Linked DNA regions of Homo sapiens: region 2 is linked to region 1. Evidence: fine-mapped expression QTL. A gene starts in region 1. The other region holds a variant in brackets. All regions are shown on one strand. Distances are between the middles of the regions. Region 1 holds the start of TIMM13 (translocase of inner mitochondrial membrane 13). Region 2 overlaps TMPRSS9 (transmembrane serine protease 9).

The links.
Region 2: its variant is fine-mapped to the expression of TIMM13 in whole blood (INTERVAL, PIP 0.91).

The regions. Positions count from the first base shown.
Region 1 is chr19:2,425,884-2,428,780 of GRCh38, forward strand. TIMM13 (translocase of inner mitochondrial membrane 13) reads right to left here and starts at 1,703. Exons shown (of 3, transcript NM_012458.4): 1 at 1,531-1,703; 2 at 1,373-1,441; 3 at 1-1,163. The coding sequence starts at 1,650. The coding sequence ends at 1,065. TMPRSS9 (transmembrane serine protease 9) reads left to right here. Exons shown (of 19, transcript NM_001395513.1): 19 at 44-378. The coding sequence ends at 205. It overlaps LMNB2 (lamin B2), which reads right to left. Exons shown (of 12, transcript NM_032737.4): 12 at 2,283-2,897. RefSeq lists enhancers at 450-1,193, 1,194-1,939, 2,024-2,173 and a silencer at 1,384-1,473.
Region 2 is chr19:2,386,635-2,389,531 of GRCh38, forward strand. The region is part of intron 1 of TMPRSS9 (transmembrane serine protease 9); the gene reads left to right. Among named protein-coding and RNA genes, the nearest start is that of TMPRSS9, 28 kb to the left of the region's middle. The variant A/C (reference allele first, on the strand shown) is at 1,447.

The DNA.
Region 1 (2,897 bases):
GGAGGTACCGGCCTCTGAACCCCCTTTCTTCTCTCCCCAACAGGGTGACGCTGGGGGACCCCTGGCCTGCAGGGAGCCCTCTGGACGGTGGGTGCTAACTGGGGTCACTAGCTGGGGCTATGGCTGTGGCCGGCCCCACTTCCCAGGTGTCTATACCCGGGTGGCAGCTGTGAGAGGCTGGATAGGACAGCACATCCAGGAGTGACCACCACGTGACTGCCCAGGCCGAGACTCTACGTGAAAGCAACAGGAGCAGCAGGCCACCCAACACCCCACCCCACCGTACCCTACCCAAGGACGGGTGTGGGGGGGCTGTGGGTCATGGGGATGCATTTTGGTACCACCCTTTGTTCCAATAAACACAGCCCCTCCACCCTAGCTCACTGGCTCAGCACCTCAGTGTCACAGCGAGGACCACCTGCCTGGTGCTCCACCAGGACCCGGGGTGGAACGAAGCAGGGTCAAAGCAAGCCCTGACAAGGGGAAGGCTGTCCCCCTTAGCCTTTGGGGCAGGGGTGGCAGCAGCAACACATTCCTCGTGACTCAGCAGCCCGGTGGCACTAAGGGGAAAGATGGACTTCTCCCAACCCAGGGGAGGCTGAGACCCTCCGAGCTGGGGTTCCAGGGACACGCGTCACCTCTTCCCAGAGACCCCTCAGGAGGGAAATAAAGAGGTTTCTCTCCGTCCTCCACCAATTTATTTGCCCATCCGCAGGAGGTGACAGCTCCTGTGGTGTCTGACCACCCCCAACTCCGAAGTCCAGACAAGCTGTCCGCCCAGAATATGAGGCTGACTTGGGCACACTAGGGGAATACCCCAAAGGCCTGAAGGAGGTGCCACTGGGCTGCCAGCACTTCAGGAAGGCACAGGGCCCCACACCCCCGAGATCCAAGCTGCACTGGCTGGCAGGGGGCAGGGCGGGGGGTGGCGAGGACACAGTCCCGTGTGTCCCAGCACCGGTGCCACCCTCCTAAGCCCCGGGCAGGCAGTACGTACATGCGGACCCCGCCTCTCAAAGCACGTTTATGGAAATGAACAGGGTGGGGTGGCCCGCGCTCGCCGGTCACATGTTGGCTCGTTCCCGCTGCAGCCGCGAGTTGTAGGCGCGAGACACGGTGTTCCAGGCGTCCATGTAGCGGTCCATGCACATGGCGATGCACTTCTGCGGGAGCGGAGGGGCGCACGGCTCAGCTCGGGACTTCGCGGCCCCGGGGACCGCCCTGACCCCGGCTCCAGGACGCCCGGGCTGCAGACTACGCACGTGCAGTGACCACTCCGTCGCACCTCCCCGTTAGTCTGCGCACGCGCAGACACCTCCCCCCTCGAATCTAGGCCCTCGCGACCCTTGCCCCGAACCTCCGCGGGTCTCACCTGCTCGGAGTTGTCCAGGGAGCCCCCAGGTTTCCCTATACACTTCCGGAAACACTTGTCCGTCATCCTCTGTGGAGACACGCGAGGCTTTAGCCGCGACGTCGGCCCCCAGGGGTGGCCCTGTCGCCCCCAGCGCCCGTCCCCGGCCAGCCCCGCACCTGCAGCAGCTCCTGCGCGTTGGCCACGGCGATCTGCACTTTCACCTGCTCCATTATGAGCCCTGGGTCCAGCTTCCCGCTGCCGGAGCCCCCGAAATCGGAGCCGAAGCCGCCCTCCATGGCTCCGCAAAGTCAACCGGACCGAGGCCGCGTGCGCCGACTCGTAACTAACTGCGCCGGAAGCGGGCCGCCCGGGGCACCACGGGAAACGGAGTCCGCGCGGACGGGGACGGAGGACTACAACTCCCACACGACCGCGCGCGCCCGGGCCATTCAAGGTCGCGCGGGGGGCCCTCCGCTCATGCGGAGGCCTGGACCTGCCGTTACCTACACGAGCTACCCGTGGTTGCGACTCCGCGGGAAGAGGGAGGCCCTGACTTGGCCGGGGAGTAGGGGGGCTACTACGTGCGGCCGAGGCCGATCACTTTGTACTCACGCTCTGCCTCCAGCTCGTCCCGAAGGGCCTGCCGCGCATGCGCACGAGGCACCCGGCGCGTCTATACAGCGTGTTGCCGCCGGGGCGGAGCCCGGTCGCATCACGTGACGAAGAGTCAGCTTGTGCAACAGCGTCGGAGGCTCACTAGAAAAAAAAGGGCAGGGTCCCATGCATCGCCTGGGTCCTGTTTACACTAGCTACACTAGCCAGTGACCTTTTTCCTTGGGGGTGGAGGGATCTTTCTTAGACATCCGCTTCATTAGGGCAGAGGCCCCGGCTCGAGCTTCCCCTCAGGAATAAACTCAGAGGCAGAACCTAAAATCAAAATGTTTATTGGAGTGTTGTACAAAAAAGTTTCCAGTCATAAAATGTATATTACAAATCATTGGAAAAAAAAAAGAACACATTAGGCATGCATCTTCTTAAAAACCGAATCTCTGAAATGAAAGTCCATGCCAGCCCCAGCTGCAGCCCAGCTCCGTTTTTGCAGGTTGTGCTGTGACGCTCGCTGGACGCAGGGCTTGGAAGAGGCTGCAGGCGGCGACGCCCCAGGACTGAGGAGTCCCTCAGATCTTTAACAAAGAACTGCCGCGTGCAGGCTTCAGACCAACCCCAGCCAAAGCCGCTGGCATGAGGACAGGTGCATGATCGGATTCTGGGTCAGCCCGCAGGCCTCCCGGCTCCTGGGCTCAGCGGGGCAGGCTTCAGCGTTAACCTGGCGCTGTGCACCCCAGAACCCGCGTTGGTCCAGCAGGCGTGGGCCTCCCCCCAGGGCTGGGTGGCGTCTGATGCTTCGCAGGGAGGGCGCTAGGCTTCGAGTCACACGGCACGGGCTTACACAGAGGGATGGTTTCGCATCGTTCTAAGCGGCACACAGCTAAGCGTATTTGGGGACAAATGCAAATTGTTTCCCAGGCCATAAATAACTTTT
Region 2 (2,897 bases), 39 kb before region 1:
GGCTGCTTTAGCGTGACAATGGGAGAGTGAAGGGACACAGTCCTGACTGCCTTGTGAGCATGAAAATATTTACTGCTGCCAGCACAGTGGCTCACACCTGTCATCCCAGCACTTTGGGAGGCCAAGGCAGGTGGGTCACTTGAGGCCAGGAGTTTGAGAACAGCCTGGCCAATATGGTGAAACCCCATCTCTACTAGAAATACAAAAATTAGCCAGGTGTGATGGCACACGCCTGTGGTCCCAGCTACTTGGGAGACTGAGGCATGAGAATCACTTGAACCTGAGAGGCGGAGCTTGTAGTGAGATCACGCCACTGCACAGTGCACCTGTGGTCCCAGCACTTTGGGAGGCTGAGGAGGGAAGGTTGCCTGAGGCCAGGAGTTCAAAACCAGCCTGGGCAATGTAGCAAGATCCCCTCTCCACAAAAAACAGAAAAATGAGGCCGGGTGCAGTGGCTCACGCCTGTAATCCCAGCACTTTGGGAGGCCAAGGCGGGTGGATCACCTGAGGTCAGGAGTTCAAAACCAGCCTGGGCAACATAACAAGATTCCCCTCTCTACAAAAAAATAGAAAAGTGAGGCTGGGTGAGGTGGCTCATGCCTGTAATCCCAGCACTTTGGGAGGCCGAGGTGGGTGGATCAACTGAGGTCAGGAGTTCGAGACCAGCCTGGCCAACATGGCAAAACCCCCTCTCTACTAAAAATATAAAAATTAGCCAGGTGTGGTGCTGGGCGCCTGTAATCCCAGCTATTGGGGAGGCTGAGGAAGGAGAATCGCTTGAACCTGGGAGGCAGAGGTTGCAGTGAGCAGAGACTGTGCCACTGCACTCCAGCCAGGTCAACAAGAGTAAGACTCCATCTCAATAGAAAAGAAAGGAAAGGAAAGGAAAGGAAGGGAAGGGAAAGGAAGGGAAGGGAAAGGAAGGGAGGAAGGGAGAAAGGGAAGGGAAGGGAGAAAGGAAAATGAGCATGGCGTGGTGACGTACACCTGTGGTCCCAGCTATGGGAGGCTGAGGTGGGAGGATCACTTAAGCCCGGAAATTTGAAGTTGCAGTGAGCCGAGATCGCACCACAGCACTCCAGTATGGGCAACAGAGAGACTCTCTCTCTCTTTAAAAAAGAAAAAATAAAAATCAGGGGTGGGGTGTGAAGGTCAGGAGCACTTTGGGTTTTAGGCTGCTGGAGGGATTTTAGTGTGTGTGTCGCAGGGATGATGTAATCTGATGGACACTTCAAAGGCACCCTTAACGGCTGTGACCAGCTCACAGAGGGGCAGGGGAGGGAGGAAAGAGGCCAGTCCCTCCAGACGGGATGCTGGTGGGCTGTCCAGAGCCGTAGCTGCACAGATGGTGAGGAATGACTGGATTAGGAATCTCTTTTGAACACTAGCCAACAGGAGTTGTTGATGAGTGTGACAGAAAAAGAGTCTGTGGTCACAAATTCTTTG[A/C]TGCACCTCCCTTCGAAAGCTGGCACTCAGGCTGGGCGCGGTGGCTCACGCCGGTAATCCCAGCACTTTGGGAGGCCCAGGTGGGAGGATCGCGTGAGGTCAGGAGTTTGAGACCAGCTTGGGCAGCATAGGAAGACTCCCTCTCTACAAAAAACTTAATTAGCTGGGCATAGTGGCACACACGTGGCCCTAGCTACTAGGAGGCGGAGGTGGGAGGATCGCTTGAGCCCAGGAGGTGGAGGCTGCAGTGAGCTGTGATCACACCATTGCACTCCAGCCTGGGCAACAGAGAAAGACCCTGTCTCAAAAACAAACAAAAAAGGAGGCGGGAGGGTGAGAAAGAGAGACTGGAAGAGGCTGCACTGTGGCTGTGAAGGGAGAAGAAGGGGCCCTGAGGCTTAAGACGCTGGTAAAGATGGGAAACGTATTCTCCCCTGGAGCCCCCAGAAGGGCCCAGGCCTGCCCACAGCTCGATGGTGAGCCCTGCAAGATGGATCTCAGACTTCTGACTTTCAGAACTGTGAGATAATCAATCAGTATTCCATTTTTAAATTCTTTGAGACAGGGTCTGGCTCTGTCACCCAGGCTGGAGTACAGTGGCACAATCACAGCTCACTGCAGCTTCCACCTCCTGGGCTCAAGTGATCCTCCTGCCTCAGCCTCCTGAGTGGCTAGGATTACAGGCATGAGCCACCACATCTGGCTAATTTTTGTTCATTTTTTGTGGAGATGGGGGTCTCACTATATTGCCCAGGCTGGTCTCAAACTCCTGGGCTCGAGCAATCCTCTCACCTCAGCCTCCCACAATGCTGGGATTACAGGTGTGAGCCACCACGCCTGGCCGAAAACTCGGTGTCCCTCTAAGCCCCCAAGCGTGGGGTCCTTTGTTACAGCAGCTGTGGGAACTTCAGACTTACTCTTTCTAGCAATGGACCGCAGCGACCCACGGGAGTCCTCATCCTCACACAGCCGCCCAGCCAGCAGTCACGTTCCACCTTTTTTTTTTTTTTTTGAGATGGCGTCTTGCTCTGTCGCCAGGCTGGAGTGCAGTGGCGTGATCTCAGCTCCCTGCAACCTCCGCCTCCCGGGTTCAAGCGATTCTCCTGCCTCAGCCTCCCGAGTAGCTGGGATTACAGGCGCCCACCACCACGCCTGACTAATTTTTTGTATTTTTAGTAGAGATGGGGTTTCACCATGTTGGCCAGGCTGGTCTCAAACTCTTGACCTCAAGTGATTCACCCACCTTGGCCTCCCAAAGTGCTGGGATTACAGGCATAAGCCACCGCATCTGGTCTTTTTTTTTTTTTTTTTTGGAGTCTCGCTCTGTCACCCGGGCTGGAGTGCAGTAGCGTGATCTCGGTTCACTGCAGCCTCCGCCTCCCGGGTTCAAGCGATTCTCCTGCCTCAGCCTCCTGGGTAGCTGGATTACAGGTGTGCACCAACATGCCTGG